Homo sapiens: one gene and its partners. The protein of the gene in region 6 interacts with the protein of the main gene of each other region in a pairwise test. Each region holds a gene or a part of one and is shown on either strand. Other genes may lie near its edges. The genes, in order: GOLGA3, MEGF6, FBN1, MEGF8, TXNDC11, ATXN7 and ITPRID2.

Region 1 (4,290 bases), on a different chromosome or scaffold from region 6:
GCCAATGTTTCCTTTCCATTTAAGTAAAACCAATAAGAAATCTTATGAAAGTCGCCAGTTTAAAACAAGCGAAAACCACAAACACTTAAAACACAGCTGACAATCTTTCTAGCAGGCACTGGTAACAGCAGTGTTAATCAGAGTCACAGCCTCACATTTACAAAGGCTGATTTTGGAGTCATTTCAAAGCCTCAGCTTATCCTCCAAGGCGAGGACCCTAAGGCGAAGAGGTGGATGATGTCATCACACCACCCGTGAAGCAGAGACAGCCCAGAACCGCGCTTCTGCTTGATGACAGCCTGCTGGGTAAAGGCCTGGGTTGGACCAGTGACAATTCTATACCCACGTGTTACCTCAGTTCACCCACTAAAATGATTATATACAAATTACCCACAACACAAACTAAAACATATTTCCTCATCAAATGGAACAAAGAAAGATTTCTTTCAATGAAGTGATTTTCAGTCTTTTCCCTGCCCCCTAACTGCTGACTGGTGGGTGGGCCAGTTCACAGTCAAAGAACCAAGACATGTGAGGGGGGAGGGAGGGTCCTCAGGGGGTTCTGGTCCTGGTTCCGGTGGCTCTGGAGGCCCGGCAACACCTCCGTGTCTCACAGGGGTCAGCATTCCTCGGATCCCACGTGCATGCAGGACAGCAAATTTGCTTTTTGCTCAAGCAAATTAAAAATGAGTTTCTTAGCCGGGCGCGGTGGCTCACGCCTGTAATCCCAGCACTTTGGGAAGCTGAGGCAGGTGGATCACGAGGTCAGGAGATCGAGACTATCCTGGCTAACACGGCGAAACCCCGTCTCTACTAAAAATACAAAGACTTAGCTGGGCGTGGTGGCGGGCGCCTATAGTCCCAGCTACTTGGGAGGCTGAGGCAGAAGAATGGCGTGAACCCTCGAAGTGGAGCTTGCAGTAAGCTGAGGTCGTGCCACTGCACTCCAGTCTGGGCAACAGAGCGAGACTCCGTCTCAAAAAAAGAAAAGGTTTCTTTCACTTGCAAATGTGAGTTCAAACTAACAGCAGATACTTACTGTCATGCCTCCCGAAAGAAAAACCAGAATAAAAGCAGGGGTGCCAGACAGGAAGCCAGACCACGGGCACCCGACCAACGCACTGAGACGCCTTTCATGCAAAGGACCCGTGAGCTCCACTGCTGGGAGAGGGGGAACCTTGCATTTCAGATAAAAGTTACTGGGTTAGGCCGGGCGCAGTGGCTCACACCTGTAATCCCAGCACTTTGGGAGGCCGAGGTGGAAGGATAACTCAAGGCCAGGAATTCAAGACCAGCCCGGGCAACAGCAAGACTGTTTATACAAAAAGTTTTTAAAATGAGCCAGGCAACAGGGCGCGGTGGCTCACGCCTGCAATCCCAGCACTTTGGGAGGCCAAGGTGGGGGGATCACCAGAGATTGGGAGTTCAAAACCAGCCTGATCAACATGGAAACTCCATCTCTACTAAAAATACAAAATTAGCTGGGCGTGGTGGCACATGCCTGTAATCCCAGCTACTCAGGAGGCTGAGGCAGAAGATCGCTTGAACCCGGGAGGCGGAGGTTGCCATGAGCCGAGATCGCACCATTGCACTACAGCCTGGACAACAACAGCAAAACTCCGTCTCAAAAAAAAAAAAATCAGCTAGGCGTGCTGACACGCATCGATAGTCACCGCTACCCCAGAGACCAAGGCAGGAGGATCACTTAAGCCCAGGAGTTCATGGCTGCCGTGAGCTATGATTACACCACTGCACTTCAGCCTGCTCAATGGAGCAACACCCTGACTCTAAAAACAGTAATAAAATGTTTAAAATAGAAAAAGGGGCGGAGGCTGAGATTAACCCAGCGTCTTGCTCGAGGGCACATTGCTCCTGAGCAGCAGATCTAAGAGCAGGTTCCACGGCCGCGGGTCTCAGAACTCTTGATCTTGGGCCTCTAAGTTGTTATCTGCCTCACCTGATGCTTATGTAGCAAGGACCAGCAAAGCCATCCTAAGCGCCTGAGTATCATTTTACAGGAATTAGACTGTGACTTCTGCTAGTAAATTAGCACATCTGTAGTCTACAGTTTTAAAGCACTGAACCTCCTGGCCAGGAAGAGGCATGAGAACTGAGTGAATAACTAAGTCACCCTTTCCCTCTGACACGTGAATAACCCAGGGGGCTAACATAACACTGTGCTCCGTAATCCTTAGATCTCTACGGGACGACTTCTGAATTCTAGCTATTACAAATTCAGCAACTGACCAATCAAAAAGGCAGAATTCGGCCAGGCACAGTGGCTCACTCCTGTAATCCCAGCACTTTTTGGGGCTGAGGTGGGTGGATCATTTGAGATCAGGAGTTCGAGACCAGCCTGGCCAACATGGTGAAACCCCGTCTCTACTAAAAATACAAAAAATAGCTGGGTGTGGTGGCAGGTGCCTGTAGTCCCAGCTACTCGGGAGGCTGAAGCAGGAGAATCGCTTGAACCCAGGAGGCAGAGGTTGCAGTGAGCTGAGATGGTGCCACTGCACTCCAGCCTGGGCGACAGAACAGGACACCGTCTCAAAAAAAAAAAAAAAAAAAAAAAATGGCTGGGCGCAGTGGCTCACGCCTGTAATCTCAGCACTTTGGGATGCCAAGGTGGGCGGATCACCTGAGGTTGGGAGTTCGTGGCCAGCCTGACCAACATGGAGAAACCTCATCTCTACTAAAAATACAAAAAATAGCTGGGCGTGGTAGCGCATGCCTGTAATCCCAGCTACTCGGGAGGCTGAGGCAGAAGAATTGCTTGAACCCGGGAAGTGGAGGTTGCAGTGAAACGAGATCTCGCCATTGCACTCCAGCCCGGGCACCCAGAGCAAAACTCCACGTCGAAAAAAAAAAAAGGTAGAATTTTAGGCAGGGAACATGATAAAGACCCATAGATCCCTTCAGGGAAACACTGCTGCTGCCCCACACGTTTAATGGAGTTCTGTTTAGCAGGAATGTGCCTGATCTAAAGGTGGCATCATTCAGTTACTAAAACATACTTTGGGCCGGGCACAGTGGCTCACACCTGTAATCCCAGCACTTTGAGGCTGAGGCTGAGGCGGGCGGATCACGAAGTCAGGAGATCGAGACCATCTTGGCTAACACGGTGAAACCCCGTCTCTACTAAAAATACAAAAAATTAGCCGGGCGCGGTGGCGGGCGCCTGTAATCCCAGCTACTCAGGAGGCTGGGGCAAGAGAATGGCATGAACCCGGGAGGCGGAGCTTGCAGCGAGCCGAGATCACGCCACTGCAGTCCAGCCTGGGCGAAAGAGCGAGACTCCGTCTCAAAAAAAAAAAAAAAAAAAAACAACTTTGAATTAAGTGAAAAGCTCACAGTGGTCTCAACGCCACATCCTCCCTCAACACCACGTCCTCCCTCAACACCAGGTCCTCCTGTGACCAGCACACAGAGGAACCTCACGACTTACACTGGACTTTGTCCTGCTGGTCAGGTGGCACCAGTGGGCCCGGGGGCTTCAGTGGGGCCTCGGGGAGAGACGAGGGGCCACTGTGGGATCTGTCCTCCTGGAGGCCATCTTGCTCGGCCGACGCGCCGTCCATGGTCAGGACGACACCAGCTGAGCTGACGCTGAGGGGCTACAAGTGAACCTTGGACAAGCTTGGCTTCTGCCATCAGCAACAGCCAAGAGCTCCTGGGAGGGGCCCTACTGTGTCTCCCATTTTCAGGAGAAGATCTGATGACTCACAAATGACTTGATGTCAAACCAGCTAATATCATGATACCTGACAGGAGAGAGAGACAAAATGTATTATGAAACTTGTCAGATTTCAAGTATCAATTACAAAATTAGCATTTGGTTCCCAATTTGCATACGTACAAGAAACAAATACAAACTTTTTCATTCAGCAAATAATCCTGGAGCACCCACAACATCCTAGGTTTTGAGGCTAAGATGCTGACCCAGCCACACTGGGCCCTTTCCTGAAGGAGCTTAATGTCTGTATCGGTGCCAACTAAAGAACATTCTGCTGGGACAGCGCAGCTCTGAATCTGTGGAGTAGGTGTCACACAGGGCAACTGAGCTTTAAATTTTATTTAAAATTAATTTGGGCCAGGCGCGGTGGCTCACCCCTGTAATCCCAGCACTTTGGGAGGCCGAGGCAGGCAGATCACCTGAGGTCAGGAGTTCAAGACCAGCCTGGCCAACATGGTGAAACCCCCACCTCTACTAAAAATACAAAAAATAGCCGGGTGTGGTGGTGAACACCTGTAATCCCAGCTACTCGGGAGGCTGAGGCAGGAGAGTCACTT
Region 2 (4,290 bases), on a different chromosome or scaffold from region 6:
AGGTCCCTGTTCCTGGAAGCATTCAAGTAGAGCTGGTGATGGCTGGGTGAGGTTTGCAGAAGGGATTACTTGGGGGCCAGTGGCTGCAAGGGATGATGTTGGCTCCCTTATTAACTCTGAAGTTTCAGCCTTTCTGGAGGAATTAGTCCAGAAAATGTTTCCCAGGTGGCTAAAGCTTCATCTTTAAGTCTTCAGACTTCATCATTTCTGCCTCTTTCGATGGAGAGTGCAGCTAACGTATCATAAACTTTCTGCCTTTGTGAGAGGAAGACAGCCAACCCTAGAACCTGTCCCCCAGGTGGCCCCGTGAGCTTTCCTGGCCGTATGTGCTGGGCTCTGCAGGGCTGGTTGCCTGGTGGTGGTGGGGACCCCAGGCAGCCACACAGGGCTTCCTACCTCTTCCCTGTCAGTGTGCCTCCCTTCCCCACTTTGTCTGCCCTTTCTATTCTACAGGGTGCTGGGGAACCCCCGTATTCATTCCTGGGTGCTGCACCCCTGGGATCGTGCTGTACCCTCCAGGCTGCCTGCAGCGTTGAGGGGTCACCTCCCCTTCTCCAGGCCTCCTCTTTCTGTCTCGGCTTCCGCCTGCCTCTCAGATGAGGATGTTTGTCTTTGGATTCAGGGCCAGCCTGGATAATGTAGGGCTACTATGGCAAGCACTGTTGCAAGAAATGCAACTGTGCCTAGTCTCCAGGTCCTGGGGACTAGGACGTGTATGTAGTTGTGGGGGTACCTTCAGCTGACTACCGCCTTCAGTAGGAGGAAGGACGTGGGGCAGGACCCAGCCAGAGAGAATTGTTTGGGGAAGAAAGGCGAGGACCTTTCTAGCTCTGGGGCCACCTGCGGCTTGGGCCTGGGACCTTGTCTACTGGGGCCACGTGTCCTTCCCGCTTTGAGGCTCTGAGATCAAGCTTAGTGACCACCAGGGGACAGAAGTCAGGCGGCTCCTGATGGGGGCCAGACTTTGGGGAGAGTGGGGCGTGAGCTTTGTGCATCTCTCCAGTGTGGGCCGAGGAATGTGCTCTTCCACCCGCCCTTGCCACAAACCCTGGGGGCAGGGGATGTAGGGGACAGACCAGCCAGGGCAGACGGCCACATCCGGAAGGCTCACCTAGTGCCCTGGCGGGGGCTGCTCCCAGCTCCTGTGCTGGGCCCTGGGCCCCCGCGCATCCTACCACATGGGGGGACCACATGTGGTAGGCTGGCTGCCACCAAGGTTCACATGGAGCCCCGCTGCCCCCAGGCTGCCCCAAGGGCTACTATGGCAAGCACTGTCGCAAGAAATGCAACTGTGCCAACCGGGGCCGGTGCCACCGCCTCTACGGGGCCTGCCTCTGCGACCCAGGGCTCTACGGCCGCTTCTGCCACCTCAGTGAGTCTCACTGCCCCTTCCAGTGTCCATGGTGGTGGCAGCGGGTGGAAGGGATGGTCCATGTCCTGTTACCTGTAGTCTGGGTTAGGATGAGGCTATCGGGGCCCAGCCAGGTCACCCACTGGGATGTAGGTCTGGGGTCCGCCATGAGTCTGTGGACTCCAAGCCACATCCTCTCGACTGTGACTGTGCTGGCATCCAGGGCGTCTGGGTGGATGGTCCCCAACCTTGTGCCTCCCAGCCTTGATGGGTGGTAGGGCTGCAGATGAGGGCAGGGCCAGGCCTTTTGCAGAAGCCTCCGGGGGATGAGGCCTATCTTGGCTTTTGGAGATTCCTGGCAGCAAGGCCAAGCTCTGAGTCCCTGGTGGGGTCACCCATCCCTGGGGTTCAGACACTCAGGGAAGGGGCGGTGGGCTGCAGGGGGAGAGGTGGAGGAGGACAGCTCCCTACATGATCTTGGCTGTCGTCCTGGCTGACCCAGGGCTGGTGGAAGCGGTCTGGGAGGGTGGGGCTTCAGACGGGAGCCCCCCTCAACGGTTCTGTGGGTGCAGCCTGCCCGCCGTGGGCCTTTGGGCCGGGCTGCTCGGAGGAGTGCCAGTGTGTGCAGCCCCACACGCAGTCCTGTGACAAGAGGGATGGCAGCTGCTCCTGCAAGGCTGGCTTCCGGGGCGAGCGCTGTCAGGCAGGTGAGTCCAGGCATGGGGTCTGGGGGCGGGGGGCGCCAGGGTCGGTTAACCCCACCCACCCCTCTCTCACGCCCTGCAGAGTGTGAGCTGGGCTACTTTGGGCCGGGGTGCTGGCAGGCATGCACCTGCCCAGTGGGCGTGGCCTGTGACTCCGTGAGCGGCGAGTGTGGGAAGCGGTGTCCTGCTGGCTTCCAGGGAGAGGACTGTGGCCAAGGTGAGTGGCCGGCCCCTGGGGCTCCCGGCAGTCTCATTGTGGGGTGTAGGCTGCCTGCCTGGCTGGAGGGTAGGCTTCAGAAGGGCTGCACAGCTGTCACTATCGGCCCCCTTTGCCTAAGCCCAGGTGGTGCCTTGCTACCGGTGTTGCCTTGCTACCGGTGTTGCCTTGACGGCCTGTCACATGGCAGTGGTGCGGCTGCTAGTCTCAGTCTGGTCTGCTCAGGGCAGCAGCTGCTGTCTGCCCAGGGCCTGACCTGGGGAGGGGCCAGTTTCTCTCCAAACTCCTCCCTGGTCCACTTGCTTCTTGCTTGACCAGAACAGACTGGGCTTCTCTCAGAGGCCGGGGCAGCAGCTCCCTCCTCACATGTGAGCCGGCAGCAGAGGCTGCCCCTGGAGGTGGCGGTTCAGAGAGTGGTCTGGGTGCAGTGCCGGCCTGGGGTCGTGGCTGCAGGCCCCTGCACGTGGATGCTTTGGCCTGGGTGTGAGCAGGCACAGAGCCTGGGAGCCCCATGCCCACATAGCAGGCAGGGGAGGAGGCTGTTAGGAGCTGGCTGAGAGATGGACCAGCGGAGTCCATGCTTAGGTATTCCTGGGAGACCCGGGGACCAACTGCCCGACGCGATTCCAGCCCAGCGTGCGTGGGGCTGGGGGCTTTGCCAAGAGGGCTGGGAAGGTGGGGGTGTCCTGGCTGCCCCAGCTTGCACTGGCGGGAGGTGCAATAACCAGGACAACGGTGTGTGGTCCTGGCCAAGCAGAAAGCTGACCAAGCTGGTCTGAGGCTCAGCGGGATGGTCACTCCTCAGTCTCATGACCAGGATAGGAAATACCCGAGTGTGTCATCGGCTTATGAGGGGAAGGAAGACGCCCTCGGCATGAGTAATGGAGCTGCCGCAGCGGCCGCCAACAGGGCCTGGGCAGGTCGGAGCCTCCCTTGGCATGGCGCACGCTGTCCACGCCCATTGGCCGGGAGAGACGGGAGCCACGAGGGCCTGCTGTGTGACCAGCATGACCATGGCCTGGGCTGGAGAGAGCGAGAAGCCCGGCGCCAGCCCCCTCCTCTGCCTCCCCTGGGGCCAGCCCCCTCCTCTGCCTCCCCTGGGGCCATACCAGGGGGCTCTCTGGACTCAAGCCCCCCCAGCATGGGCCCTTCCCCTCCCCACCTCCATCTGGGGAATGAGAAGGGGTCCGCAGAGGGAGCAACGTCCACCCAAGGACCCACTAGCCAGCTCTTAGGCCACCCTGGCCTCAGCCACTAAGGGCCGGAGCACTCTAGGCCAAGACTCCTGACCTGGACTGGCAGAAGCTCTGTGGTCTCAGGCCGGTGTGCAGCAGCTCTGAGCGCCCACTTCCCATCTGTGCACAAGCCCTAGGGCTTCATCAGTGCGCGGACATGGGACTCAGCTCCTCCTGACTCCCCAGCATCCCCTCCCCACCCTTCCTCCCGCTCCCCACCCCCAAACGTGTACACACATACATGCACACACCACTTACACACACATACACACATACATGCACACACTGCTTACACACACATACACATGAATGCAGGCAGGTGCATGCAGACACACACCAGCAGCTCACCCTCCCCTGATGCCTGTGACCCTCCTTCCAGTCCCTGCTCTCTATACCAGAGACAGTGAACAGGCCTCGCCAGAGAAGCACCTCCACCACTCCCGGAGCCCCCAGTTCCTGAGAGGAGGAAGGCTCCTCCCCTGCCCCTCCTCTGCTCCTCCTCTGCCCCTTCCCCTCTTTTCTTTAAGAGCCTGTGGTGCTCCGAGGATAAGCCACAGGCGATGACATCCGAGTGTTGATAGAAAGATCAACACTCTTTATAAAGATAACATCCCCTCTTGTTGGGTCTGGAAACTGTTCCTGCCCAGCACTCATCTGCTCCAGTTAGTGGAGGGGGGTTCCCTGACGCCACCCAGCCCTGTGCACACTGCCCAGTGCCCTAGGGCACGGTGAGTGCCAGGCCTGTAGTCCCAGGGACGTGCCTGTGTCCCTATGGGCGGGTGC
Region 3 (4,290 bases), on a different chromosome or scaffold from region 6:
TATAAGACACCCACAATGCAAACTTGACTATATTCCTAATCCAATTTTATTCTATTGATAATGTGGCTACTCCATTTATAAGAAAAATAGTACAGTTCAGCTCATTACAACACCAATTCTATTAGCAACTGCAACCTATTTTTACTTATTAGTATAACCCCTAATTTAAAAAATTGAGGTGGATTACACCAACAGATACATACATTTGAGGCTATAAATAGAAATTGAAAATAAAATTCCATACAGAAGAAAGTTAAAACATACCAAAGTTAATAAATTAGAGTGATTGCCCATTAAATTTATTTCATGTATAATCTTAAAAGCTGATTTTCTTAAAAGCAAATGGAAAATGGTTAGATGTTTTGAAATTCTCATATTTGAATAAAACAAAACATACTGCTTCATTAGGAACTTTCATTTTATTCCTGACAGTTGTGAGTTCTTTAAATGCAGAACTGTGGACAAACTAAGATCAATGCCCTAACATGAATCTAACAGAACATGCAAACACAATATTTATGGAGCTTTTTCATTCTGAAGTTACAGCAGCAAAATACAATGAGGCATCCTCAGTAGAGAACTAAGCCAACTGAACTTGATCAAGTTAGAATTAAAACTTAAAGTATCTGATTAGCCTTCTCAAAGATCTATTGCCTCACAGTGGTAGCTGGTCTCCAAAGATGGCTCCACTTTCTCCCCTCCCAGCAGACACATGATGCTCCTCACATCCAAAGGTAGGTCTTAATAGTCCATGCCCTTCAATCTGGATGAGGCCTATGACTTGGATGGAATTCCAGGTCATGCGATTCCAGGCTAAGTTTGAAGAAAGTCTGGTAGTTCCCACTTTTGTGCTCTTGAGAGATCCTGAACTGCCATGGAAAAAGTCTGGCTATGCTGCTCTAAAGACCATGTAGAGAGGCCACGTATAGAAAGGGGACAACCTGAGACTATATAAAGGAGAATCAAGGAAGCCAGGCAATGTCGAGGACATATGAGTCCATGTGACCCCAGCCAGCCAGCCCCCAGCCCTTCGAGTTAGCCTACGGTCAATATGTGGGATTAACACATGTGACCAGGGTCAGGAGGCTGTTGTTCAAGATCCAGCCCCAACAGACACTCACTCTGAGCAAGGCCTAGTCGCTGCATCTGGGGCTCAGTCTCCCCATTTGAAAAAAAACACATTCAATGGCTCCATCCCGGGGGCAGGTTCAGGCAGGAGACTGCATGAGAGACAGCTTTAAAACTTGGAAGGCCCCCAGCAGAGCCAGACAAGTGGCTCTTTGCTTCCTTTATTCCCCTCCTCAGTGGGTCCATTTAGATAAACCACACCCAAGTAAACAGGGCTGCAGGCGCCAGTGCCTGGTCACAGAACCAGATGCATATGTGAAGAAGTCATACTGCCTGTTCCAGCCCAACTGACATTGTGGGGCGCAGAGACAAGATTCCCCACTGTGTCCTGTCTAAATTCCTGAGCCACAGAATCATGAGAAAGAATAAAATTGTTGTTTTAAGCCACGAAGTCTGGGGCAATTTGTTACGTAGCAATAAAATAACTCAAACACTCACAAATGAAAATACTTTGTTTCATGGTAGTAGAGGGCCTAGGCCTGATCTCGTTTCCCTTTATTTTCTCTTTATGGTGCTACAATGACTTCGTGTATGGTAAGTTTGAATATATATGGAGGTGGGAGCATTCTAGGTCCTCCTCGCCTTTGTCTTTCACAACCAACTAGTCAAGTACTGTCTGCATTAACTCTGGAACCACCTGAGTCTCTTCTTTCTTCACCCCTTTCACTGAATTTGCTCAGACCATCGTGGACTCTCACTGTGACTCCTATATTAGCCTCCTAAATCCAAATCTCCCTGTCTTTAGTCTCTCTTCTCTCTAATCATCTACCCTTCACACCTCTACCCAGTGGCAAAGATCTGATCATGTTCCTATCTTAGAATCCTTTACTAGCTCCCCGTCCTTGCCTTTCACAACATCAGTGACATTTATATTTCCACTAGTCCCTCTCCTTTCCCTAACAACATTGCCACCTATGTACGGGCTCACAAGATTGCTCAAGGTTGCAAACTGCACAGCTCCAGAGGGCACTCGTTTCATAGACTGCACTACAAACCATGTCACTTGGAACCATGCCGTGCCAACCCTGCCCAACTGCAGTCAATGTCCTAAGACCTCAGACACTTCATATCCCTTTCCCTTGATGTATTTTTCACTCATCTTTCCTTTATTTCTCAGCTATACTTACTCCAAGCTCTAGTCTATATAATTAACCATACCCAGTTAATCAGCTCATCAAAATTGCTCAGAGTTCAACTATCAAAAACTATTCTATTGAACATGTGCCGCATACCCAGTTCCTAGATGTTCCTAGAGATAAATAAAACAAGCAAGATCTCTGCCTTCAAGGAGTTCTCACTCCTAGTAGACAGTCACTTTTTATCACGTAGATCAGAGGTTGTTAAACTTTTTCTGTAAAGGACCAAAGAGCAAATGTTTCAGTTTTATGGGCCATACTGTCTCTGTTGCAACTACTCCACTCTGCTGCTGTAGGGAGAAAGCAGCCATACATAATAAGTAAATAAACAGGCATGGATTTGTTTCAATAAAACTCTATTTTCAAAAAAAGTGAGCTTGGTCTTCAGTTTGTTGACCACTGATAAACTTTTTTTTTTTTTTTAAGACAGGATCTTGTTCTGTCGCCCAGGCTAGAGTGCAGTGGCATGATCATAGCTCACTGCAGCCTCAACCCTCTGGGCTCAAGTGATCCTCCTGCCTCAGCCTCCCAAAGCACTGGGATTACAGGAATGAGCCACCATGCCCAGCCCTAATAGACTTTCACTGTAAAGTCACTTCTGATCAATCCCATTCCCACAATGATGCTTCCCTTGGCTTGTAACAGCATCTGCCATCAATAAATGTTGAGTCTTTCCACATAGCAATGGTGGGAGAAGATTCTTGGGAAACGAAGGTATAAAAGGTATGAAAGAAAAAAATTTACCAGCTACAAGATTTATTATAACTGTAAAGCAGTAAAATATTAAGATTAAGAGCTCCAGCTATGAAGCTAGATTTTCCAACTCTACCACTTACTAGTTTATGTCCCTGGAGTAATTACTGAAACTCTGCATCCCTTGTTTCTTCATTTGTTAAATGAATAAATAAGCTTAATTTTCCTCATAAAGGATTTATGTTTTAAAGGAATTAGTATTTGCAAAGTACAATCATAAGTGATACATCAGAGCTTTTTTTTTTTTTTTTTACCATTATGGCTGCAATTTAATGTAAAAAATTGGGCTGAGTTTACAGGCAACCAAGGTTAAAAAATGAAAAAGAAATAATTAAATAACTCATATGACTGGTCGTGATTTAAGACACATACCAATTTCCACTGGAAAGAGAAATACTTCTTGCAACCCTATTCAGAGAGATTTCTCACAGGGGACATGACAGCAAGAGGGTTCTGAACAACATAAACAGCAATGCCTCCAGCTCAGAAGCCCACACAACGCCCAGCAGGCTGCCTGCAATGGTTACCTACCACCCTCACACAAGTCAAGGTCTAATATTAAAATATAATACGCTGTCCAAAGTCCCACTGGCTCTAACATCCTATGATTCTTTCTGTTTTATTAATGTCTTTGCAGAAAGTTTCTTGTTGGACTAAATAATACTGTGTGATTAACCATACTTAGGATTTGTGAACTAGCATGAAAGAATATTAGGAATTTTAAGTGGAATTTTACCAATGTCTTGGGCCTGCATTTTTGTCTGGTGGAATGAAAAACCAAAACCATAACTAAAATTAATGGAGAAAGAAAAGTTAACGTTAAGTTTTGTCTTTAGAACTTAACCTCTGCATACCTCGGCTCTCACATCTGTGAAGGGAAGCTTATGAAAGCACCCAGCTTGTAGAGTGGCTATGAGGATTCAATGAATTATCATATGCAAAACAGTAAGAACAGTGCTTAGCAACATATAGTGCTTAGTAACATATAGATGTTACCTAAATGTTACCTACCATGGCTGCAATTGTTATTATGTATTTGTTTAGACTTAATACCAGACCCCCTTTCCAGGGACGCTGTCCTTCTGTGCACTCACGGTTCCTGAAGTACCCCCAGGGTTATGGGGTATATGTCTCTGGCCTTCCACAGAACTAAACTCAAGCTAGCATTCAATCAAGACTTCCTGAATTAATGAACTTTCTGAAACCCCACTTAATGATGAGTTAGTGGTAAAATGCTTATAATAGGATTCTTGTCTTCAATGATTTAACTATC
Region 4 (4,290 bases), on a different chromosome or scaffold from region 6:
CACACACCACCATGCCTGGCTAATTTTAAAAAAATTTTAAAGACGGGGGTCTTACTATGTTGCCCAGACTGGTCTCGAACTCCTGGGCTCAAGCGGCACTCCTGCCTCAGCCTCCTGAAGCACTGGGATTACAGGCATGAGTCACTGCGTCTGTTTTCTCTTGGTTCTAATAGTGATTGCAGTAATAACTAGAATGCCAGGAGCGCCTGCCACAGAGCTGGATGCTGTGCTGTGTAGACAGTGGTGACAGCATAGATATGAAAGGCTTTGCAAGACTGTGCTGGGGCCTCAGTGGGGTACAGACTTAAGAGGAAGACAGATTCAGAGACATTAAATGTCCTAGCTGGGCACAGTGGCTCATGCCAGCACTTTGAGAGGCTGAGGCGGGCAGATCACTTAAGGTCAGGAGTTCGAGACCAGCCTGGCCAACATGGTGAAACCCCTTCTCTACTAAAAATACAAAAATTAGTTGGGTGTGGTGGCGGACACCTGTAATCCCAACTACTCGGGAGGCTGAGGCAGGAGAATCGCTTGAACCCGGGAGGCAGAGGTTGCAGTGAGCCGATATCACACCACTGCACTCCAGCCTGGGCAACAGAGCGAGACTCTGTCTCAAAAAAAAAAAAAAAAAAAAAAGTCTCACCCCAGATCAGGTGGTCAGTTAGGCTTGGTGCCTGGAGTGACCCTGGTCTGATCTCAGAACTTGAGTGGTTTCCACTAAGCCACAGGAATCATAGCCGTTATCTATCCAGCCACACATTCATTCAGCACACAGTCATTGAGCACCTAGTATATGGCAAGCACCGTGCAGGTTGCTGGGGACACAGTAGGGAACAAAGCAGGCAAATGTTCTGTCTTTAGGAGTTTGCATTCTCATGGAGGCATCAGAAATGAACAAACAAGTCAGATGCTCGTGTGTTAGACAGCGAGGAGCGCTAAGGAAAGTTAAGTAGGAAGCGGGGGCTAGGGCTGTTGGGGAGTGGGAATGGTAGACGCAGGACACAGTGGCCAGGGAAGGCCTAGGTGAGAAGGAGGCTCTTGAGCAAAGATCTGAAGGAGGCAAGGGGGCTTGACAAGCTGACAAGTGACAGGAGAACCATGCAGGCAGAGGGTCCGCCAGTGCAAAGGCCCCAGGGTGGGAGGGCGCCTGGCACAGTATAGAAGAAGCATCCAGGCAGGCAGGCGAGGCTGGCTGACCCTGCGCCGAGTGCCATGCACATGATCTCAGTGGTCCTGTGAGCGAGCCGTGGTTACTCCCTGTGTGCAGAGCTCATGGGTTAAGTCTGTGTGCTCAGGCTCAGTGAGGTTAAGTCACTAGTCCAAGGCCACACAGCTAACAAGGAGGTAGAGCCAGAATGCAGCCGCGTTCTTCACTGCTGTGCCTCAGAGTGCCAGAGGCCTCAGTATCAGGGTGCTCAGGTCACTAGGGTGGCACCAGGGGCAGCAGTGCTGGAGTGCCAGGTCCTGGCAAGGTCTACACTGTGGCAGAGAAGGTCCGGGGGGTCACAGGGAAGTGACTGGGGCAGTGGGGGTGAGGCCCAGGGCAATGGCTACTTAGCAGTGGGTATAGAGTATTCGTCACTGCTGCTTGGGGGACAGGCTGGCACCGCACTCAGCCCTGATGGTCACCGCCTCTAACCCTGCCCGCAGTGCGCCAAGTGCCGGGAATCATTTCACGGGAGTCCGCTGGGCGGCCAGCAGTGCTACCGCCTCATCTCGGTGGAGCAGGAGTGCTGCCTGGACCCCACGTCCCAGACCAACTGCTTCCATGAGCCCAAACGCCGGGCGCTAGGCCCCGGCCGCACTGTCCTCTTTGGCGTGCAGCCCAAATTCACCAACGTGGACATCCGCCTGACGCTGGACGTGACCTTCGGGGCCGTGGACCTCTATGTCTCCACCTCCTATGACACCTTCGTGGTCCGTGTGGCCCCTGACACTGGCGTCCATACTGTACACATCCAGCCACCCCCAGCCCCACCACCTCCACCACCCCCTGCAGATGGTGGGCCCCGGGGGGCTGGGGATCCAGGAGGAGCAGGGGCCAGCAGTGGGCCGGGCGCCCCAGCAGAGCCACGGGTACGGGAGGTATGGCCGCGGGGCCTGATTACCTACGTGACGGTGACGGAGCCGTCGGCAGTGCTGGTGGTCCGCGGCGTGCGGGACCGGCTGGTCATCACCTACCCACACGAGCACCATGCCCTCAAGTCGAGCCGCTTCTACCTGCTGCTGCTGGGCGTGGGAGACCCAAGTGGGCCCGGCGCCAACGGCTCAGCCGACTCGCAGGGCCTGCTCTTCTTCCGGCAGGACCAGGCCCACATTGACCTGTTTGTCTTCTTCTCCGTCTTCTTCTCCTGCTTCTTCCTCTTCCTCTCACTCTGTGTGCTCCTCTGGAAGGCCAAGCAGGCTCTGGACCAGCGGCAGGAGCAGCGCCGGCACTTGCAGGAGATGACCAAGATGGCCAGCCGCCCCTTCGCCAAGGTCACCGTCTGCTTCCCACCTGACCCTACTGCCCCGGCCTCCGCCTGGAAGCCGGCTGGGCTCCCACCTCCCGCCTTCCGCCGCTCTGAGCCCTTCCTGGCACCCCTGCTGCTGACAGGGGCCGGTGGGCCCTGGGGACCCATGGGAGGGGGCTGCTGCCCACCAGCCATCCCCGCCACCACTGCTGGGCTGCGAGCTGGGCCCATCACTCTCGAGCCCACAGAAGATGGCATGGCTGGCGTGGCCACACTGCTGCTCCAGCTGCCTGGCGGGCCCCATGCACCCAACGGCGCCTGCCTGGGGTCAGCCCTCGTCACACTGCGGCACAGGCTGCACGAGTACTGTGGGGGTGGTGGGGGTGCTGGGGGCAGTGGGCATGGGACTGGTGCGGGCCGGAAGGGACTGTTGAGCCAGGACAACCTCACCAGCATGTCCCTCTGACATGCCCAGGGTTCTCATCCACAGCAGCTGGGTCACCTGATAGGGCCGCCCTGGACTTGGGGTCCCTCCACCTGGGGGCCCCTGGACACTGTCTACTTGGAGACCACTGGCCCCCTTCCCCCAGGGTTGCCCAGATGGGGCCTCCTTTGTTCTGCATTCAGCAGCTATTTATCGAGTACCTACTCTGTCAGGCACTGTCATAGGCGTGGGGCAAAGCAGGAACCAAGAGACGAGGTTCCCTGATCTCATGGGACTTAGGTTCTGGTGAAGGGAGACAATCAGTGCACATGCACACACCCCACACGCATACACACATGAACACATGCACATGTGCACACACAAGTAAGATGGCTTCAGAGAGGGAGAAGCACTGTGAGGCCTCCAGAGGATGTGGCAGTGAGGGACGATGGGGTGAAGTCAGCTGGGCATTCAAAGAAGCTAGACTGAGAACGCCTGAGAAGAACCAGCTACGGGAAGAGCTTTGGGAAGCAAAGGCAGAGGCCCTGGGGTGGGAGCAGGCTTGTTTTATTGGAAGGACCAGAAAACTGGTAAGTGTGACCCAGATCAAGTGTGAGGAGATGAGGCTGGGGATAGTCAGGGGCTGGATCACCCAGGGCCTTGTGGGCCCCACATAGGGTTTTGGGTTTTATTCTCAGGGCAATGGGAAGCTGTTGGATGGTTTGATGAAGGGGAGTGACAGGATCCGATGTACCTATTTAAGAATTTAAGAGGGTCGGGTGCGGTGGCTCATGCCTATAATCCTAGCACTTTGAGAGGCCAAGGTGGGCTGATCACAAGGTCAAGAGTTCGTGACCAGCCTGGCCAATATGGTGAAACCCCATGTCTACTAAAAATACAAAAATTAGCTGGGCATGGTGGCACACACTTGTAGTCCGAGCTACTCGGGAGGCTGAGGCAGAAGAATCGCTTGAACCCAGGAGGCGGAGGTTGCAGTGAGCTCAGATTGCGTCACTGCACTCCAACCTGGGTGACAGAGCGAGACTCCACCTCAAAAAAAAAAAAAAAATTTAAGAGGTCACTCAGTTGTGCTGTGGAGAATGGACCGGAGGGACAAGAGGGGCAGCAGGGATGGTGGGCTGGAGTAGGGTGCTGGCAATGAGGGAGTCTGGCTCAGATGTGGGATGTGTATGGAAGAATATAAATGATGGTGTGGATGTCAGGGTGAGGGAGGAGACAAAACCACGATGACCCCTAGCTTTGTGGCCTGAACTGTGGGTGGCTGAGGGGATCGTTAATTGAATGGGGCAGACTGAGGCTTGTGAGGAAGATCAGAGTCTGGTTCTTGACATGAGATGCCCTTCAGACATCTCTTCACTCAGGTCCAACTAGGGATACAGAAACACTGAATAT
Region 5 (3,427 bases), on a different chromosome or scaffold from region 6:
CGTCTTCCTACTGTCTTGTTTTTTCCCTGCAACAGGTAATGCCAAATTTTTGTCACTGGTGGGCAGTTGGGATTCTTTTGTGGAGGTCTGAAAATGAAATGGGTTTAAGATGTAAATCATTCATTATGTTCAAAAAATGTTCCCTTAGGAACCAGGCGTGGTGGCTCATGCCTGTAATCCCAGCACTTTGGGAGGCTGAGGCAGGCAGATTGCTTGAGCTCAAGAGGTTGAGACCAGCCTGGCCGACATGGTGAAACCCCATCAGTACAAAAAATACAAAAATTAGCCAGGCATGGTGACATATGCTTGTAATCCCAGCTACTCTGAGGCTGAGGCACGAGAATCTCTTGAACCTGGGATGCGGAGGTTGCAGTGAGCCAAGATCACACCACTGCACTCCAACCTGGGTGACAGAGCGAGGCTCTGCCTCAAAAAAAAAAAAAAAAAAAAAGTGTCCTTAGGGACATAAAAGGGTTGTAGTGTCAGGATGTTATGTGTGGTATGGATCTTTTAAAGGTTGTTTTTCCCAGTCTATCTCTTACCCGAGCTTGAATGTGGCCGTGAGAATTCTTAGCTTTCATGGCCTGTATGAACATATGGAGGACGCAGAGACTGACAGGATTCTTCTGTTGCCCTGGCTGGAGTGCAGTGGTGCAATGTTTGTGTGGGGCAAAACAGCAGAGAATCTGTGGAGCCCTGCCTGCCCCAAGCCTTCCACTTGCTTGTCTCTCAGTTGGCCTCCCAGCAGCTCCTCATCCCTCTCGTACAGAGGACAGGGTGGCTTTCTTACCCATGGCACGTCCTTTTCTCGGATTCCAGGAGGCCTACAAAGGGGTTTTCTCCCATGCGTGCAGACTGCTGTGAACGTCCGCCATGGGATGGTCGCTTGATTTTTTCACACTTGCCTAATCAGTATTCCAGGTGCAGTTCTTAACGGCAACTACCCCGGAAGCCCCTGCAAGCAGGACATTAACAAGGGGGAGCGGACTTCCAGTTAGTAAACGTAGATGCAGATGTTTTAGTGGAAAAAGAAATTAACTCTTGGTCCTTTAGAGCCTAATACACTGGATGTTTGCTCCCTTTTTATAGATTCCCTTTGGTTTTTAGAAAGTTGAGTCCTTTTGGGGACCCACTCACATGACTTTGACAGTATCTTCTCTCCAGGGGAAAGTGTCTGCAGCATCATTTAGGGAGTTCCCTGGCTCGCATGTATGACGTTTGCTGTTTTAATTTCCTGCCTCCCTTTTGCGATTCAGCTTGTCATGTTTCTCTAGGAGAGTGTTTCCTTCATATCTATTGAATCATTCCCTTGGTTTTTGCTTTGTATCTCAAAGAATTTTTGCGGGAGTACTTCTGTGGTAGTAGGGTCTTGTCACATCATGCACTAAAAACAGAATGTGACTCACCCTTTTCTACTGCTGACTGAGTTGTGATGAGGCTTTTTCTTTCTAAGAAGTGTTTAAATTACCACATAGTCCAGGAATCACGGACAGTAACACTAACACTTTCATCTGTGTGGGCCAGGAGTTGGGCATGTAGTTTAATGACGTATAATTTTTGAATTCCAAGCATAGTTTGAAAAAATATGAAAATCTTAGCACCCAGCACATGCCTTTTAATGAAGAAGTTCTCAGCAGCTGGCAGAAATGCATCTGTGTAGAGAGACACAGGCGGAACAGGTGGCAGGGTGGGGCGTCATCTGGAGGCCTGCGTCTGGGCTGAGTGACCTTCGTTCTTAGGCTGCCTGGTGTGGGAAACGTGAAGATGTGCGCATTTCTCCGGCCCCATGCTGGGCACTTGCTGCAGGCCCTTACCCTTGTCGTTTCTAAATATCGAACATAAGAAGACTGTCCACTTCTCTTTTAATGTAAGGATGTTGGTAAACCAAAGCTTTATGGCTTTGGAATGGAATTTTTCTCATTTCCTAAAAATAAATGGTAGAAGTAAAGTATGCTCATCATGAGCTGGTCCCAAGCGAGTGTTTGGTTTAGCCAGAAGGTAAATGGGCAAGCAGCGTGAGCTGACAGCTTGCAAAAGAGGAAATGAAAAAGGCTGTTGGATAACATGTAGTAAGACCTTTTTCATTGTCCACCTGCTTATGCTATTTTTAGTGAAAAGAATATGAAATTGTATATTTACTGTGATAAAATATAAACTTGTGCATGTGCTAGGTGGAGATGTTCACAGAGGGGAAAATGTTGAGGTGTTAACATTGATGACTTCAGAGGAGTGAGATTGCAAGTGATTTGAAGGTGCTGCTTGTATGTTTTTACATCCCTTGCAAATTGTCTACAAAGAGCATGTCTTGATTTATAAAAATCATGAAGGAAAAAAATGCAAGAGCCTGTCCTTGGGAGGAAGAGGAAGGGGTGGGGCCTTGAGGGAGACATAGCCTTCCTGTGCAGAGGCATCTTGGAGCCACTTGCTCCACCGAGCAGGTGCTCCTCCAGCCAGCACTTGCGTCAGACTCTGTGTGACATTGCAAAATATAGGTGCTCTGGCCTGGCCCTGGGCCAGGGTGATGAGGGGGAGATGGGTGCTCCTGTCCACCAAGAGACTCTGATGTGTCCCAGGGGAAGAATCACAGTTTTTTAGAGGTGTGCCCTGCCACTCCCTCAGGGTTAGAGGAGAGTTGCATAGACATGGGGACCTCTTCCCACCATAGTTTCACATGACTGCTTTCCTGGAAGTAGACTGTTGACATTCTCTGTCCCTGCTACTTTCACAAAGTGTGGCAGTATTTTAGTGTGCCCATTAGGGACATTGATGGAGAGTGCACCAAGACCTCTTAGTTAGCAGATAGCATGCTCACGGATGTCACTGTCCTGTAAATGTCTGGAGGTAGACATCCTGAGGGATCTTGGCAGCTTTTTCTGGGAAGTAATTCACGTTTACTCTGCCTTACAAGACCAGGCTTGTGCCGCAGAACGTGGGGGCAGGTCCAGCGTCTGGTATTCTTCCATGGGCCCACTTGACAGGGCCACGATGTGTTTTCAGTTGTTGTGGGGTTTTTTGGTTTTCTGTTTTTGAGACAAGGTCTGACTCTGTTGCCCAGGCTGGAGTGCAGTGGTGCAATTACGGCTCACTGCAGTCTTGAACTCCTGGACTCAAGTGATCCTCCCACCTCAGGCTCCTAAGTAGCTGGATCTACAGGTGTGTGCCACCTTGCCTGGCTAATTTTTTTATCTTACTTTTTATACAGATGAGGCCTTACTATATTGTCCAGGCTGGTCTCAAACTCCTGGCCTCAAGCGATCCTCCCACCTCAGCCTCCCAAAGCACTGGGATTACAGGCACACAGCACCACACCCAGCTTTGTCATTTGAATGGCTGGGCCCCACTTGAAGAAAGCTTATATGTTAAGAAAACTAAGCTTTAAAGGAGGGGATGGTTGAATGTTTACCCCAAAATTATAAAACAATTTACG
Region 6 (4,290 bases):
CCATTGAAGTCTTACTTGTGGTCATTGATCATCATGTGCTTAATGTTTTAAATACTTATATAGCTCCTGTATTGTGATAAGGCAGTGTTGGATCACATGCATTTTAAAACTTAGAGTTAAGCAAATGTGTAATTTTAAATTAATTAATTAAAGGCAGCCACTAAGGTACTCAAGCGGATAAAGTTACCAAATGATTTACTTGTTTCTGATGGTAACATTCTTCAACAGCTCTTGATTTATATTAGTATGGATTACCTTACTCTAAGAAAACCTGATTCTCCAGTGGATAGATTTATTTTCAGCTAAACCTTTGTAGTCTGTACTTAACCATGAATTACTTCCTGGTTTAAAAAACAGGCGTAGCTATTTGTGGTATTTTTGTCTTGCGCCTTTGGCATCTTAGCGGTGTGAACCGGAGCTATGCCATCTGTAGTCAAGTGAGATTATTAAAAAAGGGGGGGTGGGAAGTGAAATGATTCACTGGAAAATTTCAGCACAGATTCTTAGGGAACGATAAGATAACCCTAGAAACATTCTTATTTGGTGTCATCTGCTGGTGGGTAGTGACAGGGAAAAAAAAGAAGGTACAACTTGTTTCTTAAGATTTTGCTATTTTGAAAATCAGAGAGGTGCGGTGTTAGAAAGGAAGAAAGAATTGCTTGCAGTGTCATTTAGCAGAGCTCTGCAGATGAATGAATAATTTTCCTCTCTCTTAATGCAAGTTGGAGCCAATGAGGTTCATTTTTAGCACGCAAAACCCAAAAGGCAATATTCTCATGTTTACGATGGTTGTCTAATTTCCTGATGGGTGTATGTGATAAAACTCTTTATGCTGAGATACTTCAGAAAGAGAAGGACCCGTTCCTAGAATGCTAAGTAAGTCTGTGGGGCCTAGATGAGCCATTTCTGAAGTCTGCTGAGTTTAACATACCTTCACTTAACGACACGTGTTTTAACCTGAATATATTGATTTCAGGGAATTCTTCCAGAATTACATTTGAGATTCGCCTAAAACATGATGTCTTTTTTTCTTTGCTTTCGTTTTCAGAAAGAAGACATAGCTCATCCAGCAAGCCGCCTTTGGCCGTTCCTCCCACTTCAGTATTTTCCTTCTTCCCTTCTCTGTCCAAAAGCAAAGGAGGCAGTGCAAGTGGAAGCAACCGTTCTTCCAGTGGAGGTGTTCTTAGCGCATCCTCATCAAGTTCCAAGTTGTTGAAATCACCCAAAGAGAAACTGCAGCTCAGGGGGAACACCAGGCCAATGCATCCCATTCAGCAAAGTAGAGTTCCCCATGGTAGAATGTGAGTATGGCCAAGAGGGTTTTTAAAGCTTACCTGCTGGAAATGAAACTGTGTACACTAGTGGCATGTGAGAGTGCCTGTGAGTAATATAAAAGAGAGTCTACTTGGGGAAGAATTCAAATGTATGTTGTATTGTTTCTTGATGTTTCCCTGTCATGTCATAGGAAACTTTTCAGAGTAGTAATAGCAGTGATAATAAGGTTACTAACATTTATTGATCCATTCTTGTGTGCTAGCTACTGAAACCTAACTCTATGTGTGTACTATGTCACTTATCACAACAACCCTATGGAATAGGTACTGTTACTATCCTCGTTTTCCAGATGAGGAGAAGGAAGCTTCGTGAGGTGGGGGAGTTTTGTCCAAAAAGGCCTCAAGTCACATAGGCCTGGATTTGTGTCCCATTTCTGTCACTTCTTAGCTGTAGGGGTTTGGGCAAGGCACTGTTTCTGTCTAAGAATAACAGCCACTATGCTGGGTTATTGAGAATATTTTAGTTAATATATGTCTAGCACCTGGCATAGTGTCTGGCCATAGGGGACGGTTAACAAATGGATACTGGCACTCCTGCTACTGCTGCTGTGGATAATAGTAATGATAAAAAGATGCAGAGATTCCCAGATGCTGCTGTAGAATTTTTGGGGGTCTACGGAGCAAATAGGGAAGCAGTGCTTCCTCCCTTCAGCCTTAGGTTCACATCACAGCAGTGATGAGGGAAGACTGAAGGAAGTTCACACCTGCCAGGCATGGCTTTGGCAAGTTTCCATGGTCACTCAGTAGATTGACAGGTTTCTTGAGGTCACGTGAGGGAGCAGCCACGCACTCCAATAGGAACATGCTTCGCCTTGTCATGGCATCCCTCAGCCTGGTGACGGATGGCTTTTCTTGGGCCAGCCTGCTTTTGGAGGGTATAGCACACATCGTAGGTCCAAGATCCGGTAACCTGGTTAATCTCAGGGTAGGGTCCAGCACCTGCTGCTGCATAAGGACCTTGCCAGCTGGGAGAGGATGTGACATCTTGCAGTCTCTCTACTGCTGTCAGGCTATTCCAGGTACAGTTGTTTGGGGCTGTTTGTCCTGGTTGCTAAGCCCCCAGCCCCTGTTCTTCTGTCAGAAGTACAGTACAGCAAGCTTGGTTTTTGTTCCGGGAGCAGTCTGAAAGCCACAAACGGTGCCAGTGTAGTGTGTAAGTCACTGGCCAGCTTAACAGCTGTTAGAGCACTGACTCCACTGAACAAAGTTTATACAACCTCATTGATTCAAATCTTCTTTACTTAGAGCTAGGCCTTTAGATAGGAACCAGGCCAGTTGTTAGCTTCCTACCAGTATTTTCAGTTTTACCAAGCAAAATGATAGTGTCAGTAAGATTCCAAGATTCATATCTTTGTTAATGGCACAGGTATTCCCTAAGCTCCTGTCATAGAAACATTTTTCAAGGACTGGAGAATTACCACTTTAGTGACACAACATATATTTATTAAACACTAGTCTCCCTTATTGACAGAAGCAAAGAACCTCTTCTTGGAGATATGTTATTTAGCATGTTTGAGTTCTCATAAGTCTTTAGTGACATTTATTGGAAATATTTGCTCACTCAGAAGTTTACTTTGTTTTGATGAATCCTTTCGTACAAATGGCAGTCCTCAAAAGATATTCTCCAAGGGTTCTGCAAATAGTCTTTGTTTCTTTTAGACCTTCTCATGTTTTGCTTCTTATAGAAATTGCATTGCATTGGGTATCAGGTCTGAGTTTCCCATTGCCTCATGTGTAAAATTTTTTGAAATGATGAAAGACCAGGCAAATTTGATGGTCCACTGAGGGTTTTGCCTCACCAGAAGGGCTTATAGACTTAATCAGTATGAACCTTACTAACAAAACTCATAAGGAGCCTTCCAAGAGGCTGGCCCTGTGCAGCGCTTGGGTAGGCCCAGGCTCTATCCTCATCCCTCTGGCTCACCATTCACCTGGGGGCTGCTGAGGCACTCAGGCACTGGTTTTCTCACTTCCTCCTGTGACAGCATGACACCCTCTGTGAAAGTGGAAAAGATTCATCCGAAAATGGATGGCACACTACTGAAATCTGCGGTGGGGCCAACCTGTCCTGCTACTGTGAGTTCCTTAGTCAAGCCTGGCCTTAACTGCCCCTCAATACCAAAGCCAACCTTGCCTTCACCTGGACAGATTCTGAATGGCAAAGGGCTTCCTGCACCGCCCACTCTGGAAAAGAAACCTGAAGACAATTCCAATAATAGGAAATTTTTAAATAAGAGATTATCAGGTAACTTCAAATTTTCTTTCTTCATAATGCTTCTCTATATATTAAATGGGCATTCGTGGGGAGCAAATCAACTGCAATCTAGAATTCCTATTTTTAAAACTGGTCAACTTCAGCTTTAGGAGGAAGTTCCTTAGTTAATATGTTTGTTCTTTTCACTCTTGGGTTTTAAAGAGCATGAGTGTGTGTGTGTGTGTGTGTGTGTGTGTGTGTGTGTCATGTAAAAGTAGCTTTCTAGTGGTGTATTTCTGAAGGAAGTAATACAGACTTAAACAATATCTTTTCTACCATCTGATGGCAGTAGTCACCCCCTGTCTTAGTGATGTTGCTGCTTTGTTGCAGCACTCACACGTTGTATATTTTTTATTTTATTGATAATGTGGCTTTTATTCCAGCTATAATTTATCTAACTGTTGATTTCTTCTATTTTCTTGCTTAAAAAATACATGGAGGAGAGTTTGTCAGGCCACATGTAATGCCTGTGTTCTTTTGACAGAAAGAGAGTTTGATCCTGACATCCACTGTGGGGTTATTGATCTCGACACCAAGAAGCCCTGCACCCGGTCTTTGACATGCAAGGTAGGTGGACTCCTGAAAGTCAAGTCGACCATCCTGATAAACATGGGTGACTGGGATGTACCACACTACTCCCACAGTCTCTCTAACCCAGAGAAGATGCTCTGTGGATTGTTGTGAATTGTGTAGGTGAAGGAA
Region 7 (4,290 bases), on a different chromosome or scaffold from region 6:
TCTATGGCTTCAGAGAGTTACCATGACGTATTCAAAATAAGCCATTCAAGAAGAACACAAGAATTAATGAAGCAAGTCATTTGGAATAATTAGAAATTCAAGAACAGGATTTAATAACTTTTTATAAATAGTTATAGGCTGGGTGTGGTGGCTCACACCTGTAATCCCAGCATTTTGGGAGGCCGAGGTGGTCAGATCACGAGGTCAGGAGTTTGAGACCAGCCTGGCCAACGTAGTGAAACCCCATCTCTACTAAAAATACAAAAAATTAGCTGGCTGTGGTGGTATGTGCCTGTAATCCCAGCTACTCAGGAAGCTGAGGCAGGAGAATTACATGAACCCAGGAGGCAGACGTTGCAGTTAGCCAAGATTGCACCACTGCACTCCCGGGTGACAATGCGCGACTCCGTCTCAAAAAAAAAAAAAAAAGAAAAAACATCGTTATAAACATTCATAACTATTTTAAACAGTCTACAAGACACTTTATAAGGCAAGTTGACTTTTAACTGAAAGTCTCTGGCCTTTTCCTTTTCTAACATAAGAAACAGACACTTCATTGTACCAGGCCAGGAGCAGTCTCATCATCTATTTAGCTCTCTTTACATTTAAGTATTTTGTCTCTTTGCTTCTGGTGACTGTTGGATCTTACCTCTTGTCTCAGATGGATTAGGCAGCTTCATGCAGTCAACATATCTGCAACATTTTCTCCTTCCTAGCTTCCTAAAGCAGCTCATGCTCAGATAATGTTTCTGAGAACTGATTTACTGAGACAGAGGGAGCTCTAACTTATATTTACTCATGGTTTTCACAAGAAGAAAATTCCCAGCAAGAATCAAACCTCATGGAAAGAGGTCCAAAAGAAAAATAGCAACAAACTACACTGAATAGGATCTAAAAGTCAGTTTCAATAAGATTGTTCTCTTCATTTGTCAATATGATTCAAGTGTTTGGGAGAAGAGGAAATTAAAGTTAACACATTATTTCCTTTATCCATTGTTCTACAAGCTCTCTTTAATGTTCCCTTAGGGATGAAAACACACTTCCAGGAGGTTTTTATCCATATTTTAAATATATCTGAAGATACATTATTTTCTTTAAAATTCCCCATATTTACAATGTAGCTGTGGTCGACCATAAATTCATTTAAAAAAAAAATCTCCCATTATTCTTCCACCAATGCATGTAATCTTGTACTTCAAAAAAATGTTCACGTCAATGCTACATTGCTTTCTTCATTAACCTTTTTTGCCAGTAGAGGGGGCAAAAAACCCCCAGACTATCATTAAAGGTTAACTTGCCACAAAAGTACATCTAGCACTTTATAAGTGTTTAAAAAACCTTTTGTGTATGGCATCTTAAAAAATTTTAAAAACTACAGCTTAGAATTCAGGAATTTTAGAAATTAAAAATAAACTTCCTTGACTTCTTTGAAGAGTGACTTACTTGAAAATATGAGTGTTGTTCACTCGGAGTCGCCAATATCAGATTTGCAATTACCTAACATAATTTGTTTAGATCTTTATGCTCTGCTATTGTATTAAACAAGGAAATTAACTGCCATATCTAATTGTCATAGAAGAGGGCCCTAATGGTAGGCAAAAATTTACACTTTAATTATGAGTGCTGGAACAAGTTTAGACCAAAACAAAGTCAAAAAGTTATCAGAGTGAAAAAGAACAAACAGAGGTTTTAATGTAGTCATCACAGTCATCTTCCATACTCATTACGATGAGAAATAAATTATACCAGGAGGTAAAAAGATAGAAGAAATATAAACATATACAAAGAAATAAAAGAAAAAAAGCTCAAAATGTAAAATATTCCAAGGTGCTGCTCCTACTCCCTTTTTATTTCACTATTCAGTTGTAATTAAAGTATTAACAGACCACAAAAAGGCAAAAATCTGTATCAGCAACTGAAATTTTACAATAAATGAAAAATCTTCACTAATCTGAGGGAGGGAGGGAGGGAGCAAGAGAGAGAGACACTCACCTAAGAGGACATTTATGAGCTGAATCAATTATTTCATTTTCTAATTCCCTAAAATAATGGTGTGTGATGTTAAAACTACTGTGAACTATTACTAAAACGCATCTAATGTAATAAATTACAAAAGACAAATTGCGCATTATATAATTTATAGCCACAACTCTTCATTAGCATACATATGCCTCAGTTTCCTCATGTATAAAATGAGACCACTACCATGTGCCTCACAGACTGCAATGAAGTACTTCAAGAGCCAAGAACAGTGCCCAGCACAGGGTAGATGCTTGGTAAAATCAGTTTTCCTGCCCCAAGCTATTCAGCTCCTACTATTCAGAAGCAGTTTTAGCTGAACCTCATTCAAAATAAGTATCTTTTATCTTTTCCAATTAAAAATTTATGTTAACTATCAGGTATATTACTGGACACAAATAACAAGTAACCAAACATTGGTCTTTTGGGCTTGCAGAAACCCTATTCAGTGGCCTTTCAAACCTGCTAATTCTAGGGTCCCTATCCTCCCCATGCAGGTACGTAATATCTTCATGTTCTTTCCAGTCATATAACAAGAACTATCCCCAAAGCCGCCTTCACATATCCTTACCACTGAGATATGTTAAGAAAAGCTTGCCCAAAGGCATACAGTCATTCAGTGGCAGACAAAACTCAAAGCCCTGTTTGATTTCAAAGCCTGTGTTTCTAACTATTATGCAATATTGCTTTGAATTTAAATATACTCTCTCAGGGCTTTCTTGAGCATCAAAATCTTACCCTTGAGAGAGAAAAGAGGGTTAAGGTTCAAATATCAACTAGTGGATAAAGATCTGGAGGAGTTACTGAACTGTCCCATTACCTCGACATCACATTATCCTGAGACCAATTCTTGGTTTGTGAAACATAAACCTGGAAAGTCAAAATTAGAATAAATTTTTCTAGTATAAATCTATTAGCTACCTCTCATTTTATAAGCATTTTTGGTACTTTTTTTCCTAGTCTGCAACTTGAAACCAGTCTCAGTAATTTTTTACCTACCTCTTCCATTTCGAAGGAGTCCTTCTGCTGTGTCATTATATTTCTTATGGATGGTATTGTCAGTGGTGCACAAGGCTCTTTTTCAGGTGTGGATATATGGACACTTTTCAGCTCACTGCTATTTTCCAGCTCACTGTGGCTGGATATGTTGAAATCACTATCTAATTTGGATTCTACAATACCAGATTCCTCACCCAGTTTACTCTCATGACTTTGAGTTTCTTTACTTTGTTCATTTTCAGTTCCTTGGTTAAAATTACTATTTGCTTCATCAGAAATTCTATCACTATCAGCATTCTCCGTAACAGCTGCTGAACTACCAGAGACTTCTTCTTTAACTGTAGCCAACATAGAAGATGACTCTTTCTTCTTCATAATTTTTTGAGACTTTTGATCGTTTTTATTGCCACTTTCTTCAATCACTGAAACATTTAGAATCTTTCCTTTTTCAGCTGATGGAGAAGGACTACTACTTTCTCCTTTCTCTGTTTTATCAACACATAAATTCAGTTTTGAGAGTGTTTTCATTAAACGATTTGCAGTGTTACTTCGAGTTAAAGGTGGAGGTGGGTCTGTCTCCTTGTTAGAGGTCACTGAGGACATACTTCCAATTCTCTGCAGGGGCGTCCCGGAGACTTGAGAATATAAAGAAGAAAACGCATTGGCCACAGTAGTAAGCACTTCAATTTGACGAAAACGGCCTACCAAAAGAAACAATATTAATGATATGTTTATATTTATATATATACATACACATATATTAAATGCATATTATTGTTTAGAATTCCAAAAACTACACTTAGATCACAAAGATTATAAAACCCTATTTTTTCCTCATCTAACACTTAAACCTTCTCTACATTCACTGGGTGGGAAGGAGCAAGATTTTTACTCTAAGCACTAGAATTTGTATTTTTAAAAAATCAGAAATAAGCACAAAGCATAATGGCAACATTGAATAAAACAGAAAGAACTAGCTATTGAATCTACAGTTGTGATTCTATTCTGAAGTCTTGAACTCCATTAAGACTCTTTCAAAATTCTCCTAAGAAAATGCATGTAAGCATATATTTTATACCTAATTTGCAGGGTGAGGGATTTATTGATCTCTTAAAACTGATCCATGAACAATGCAGGATTGGAATCCTATTTTTGGAATCTTTGGCTAACAGAAAGAAAACAAGCAAAGATATGAGTGAAACTGATCAAATTAGCCAGACTAGTTCCTGAAACAGACTGACTTCATTTAAGATTAACAAGGCTCCTCTCCTA

The links.
Region 1: the proteins of ATXN7 (region 6) and GOLGA3 interact in a two-hybrid assay, tested with the Homo sapiens proteins (one study listed by BioGRID and IntAct).
Region 2: the proteins of ATXN7 (region 6) and MEGF6 interact in a two-hybrid assay, tested with the Homo sapiens proteins (one study listed by BioGRID and IntAct).
Region 3: the proteins of ATXN7 (region 6) and FBN1 interact in a two-hybrid assay, tested with the Homo sapiens proteins (one study listed by BioGRID and IntAct).
Region 4: the proteins of ATXN7 (region 6) and MEGF8 interact in a two-hybrid assay, tested with the Homo sapiens proteins (one study listed by BioGRID and IntAct).
Region 5: the proteins of ATXN7 (region 6) and TXNDC11 interact in a two-hybrid assay, tested with the Homo sapiens proteins (one study listed by BioGRID and IntAct).
Region 7: the proteins of ATXN7 (region 6) and ITPRID2 interact in a two-hybrid assay, tested with the Homo sapiens proteins (one study listed by BioGRID and IntAct).

The regions. Positions count from the first base shown.
Region 1 is NC_000012.12:132,818,551-132,822,840, forward strand, and holds part of GOLGA3 (golgin subfamily A member 3), read right to left. Parts: intron 3,762-4,290; 5' UTR 3,579-3,761; coding exon 3,446-3,578; intron 1-3,445. UniProt on the Homo sapiens protein: Golgi auto-antigen; probably involved in maintaining Golgi structure.
Region 2 is NC_000001.11:3,503,190-3,507,479, reverse strand, and holds part of MEGF6 (multiple epidermal growth factor-like domains protein 6 isoform 1 precursor), read left to right. Parts: intron 1-1,243; coding exon 1,244-1,372; intron 1,373-1,923; coding exon 1,924-2,058; intron 2,059-2,137; coding exon 2,138-2,272; intron 2,273-4,290.
Region 3 is NC_000015.10:48,635,366-48,639,655, forward strand, and holds part of FBN1 (fibrillin-1 isoform a preproprotein), read right to left. Parts: intron 1-4,290.
Region 4 is NC_000019.10:42,373,857-42,378,146, forward strand, and holds part of MEGF8 (multiple epidermal growth factor-like domains protein 8 isoform 1 precursor), read left to right. Parts: intron 1-1,650; coding exon 1,651-2,919; 3' UTR 2,920-4,290. UniProt on the Homo sapiens protein: Acts as a negative regulator of hedgehog signaling.
Region 5 is NC_000016.10:11,680,773-11,684,199, reverse strand, and holds part of TXNDC11 (thioredoxin domain-containing protein 11), read left to right. Parts: coding exon 1-35; intron 36-3,427. UniProt on the Homo sapiens protein: May act as a redox regulator involved in DUOX proteins folding. The interaction with DUOX1 and DUOX2 suggest that it belongs to a multiprotein complex constituting the thyroid H(2)O(2) generating system.
Region 6 is NC_000003.12:63,978,867-63,983,156, forward strand, and holds part of ATXN7 (ataxin-7), read left to right. Parts: intron 1-1,048; coding exon 1,049-1,301; intron 1,302-3,319; coding exon 3,320-3,579; intron 3,580-4,072; coding exon 4,073-4,155; intron 4,156-4,290. UniProt on the Homo sapiens protein: Acts as a component of the SAGA (aka STAGA) transcription coactivator-HAT complex. Mediates the interaction of SAGA complex with the CRX and is involved in CRX-dependent gene activation.
Region 7 is NC_000002.12:181,901,195-181,905,484, reverse strand, and holds part of ITPRID2 (protein ITPRID2), read right to left. Parts: intron 3,720-4,290; coding exon 3,019-3,719; intron 1-3,018.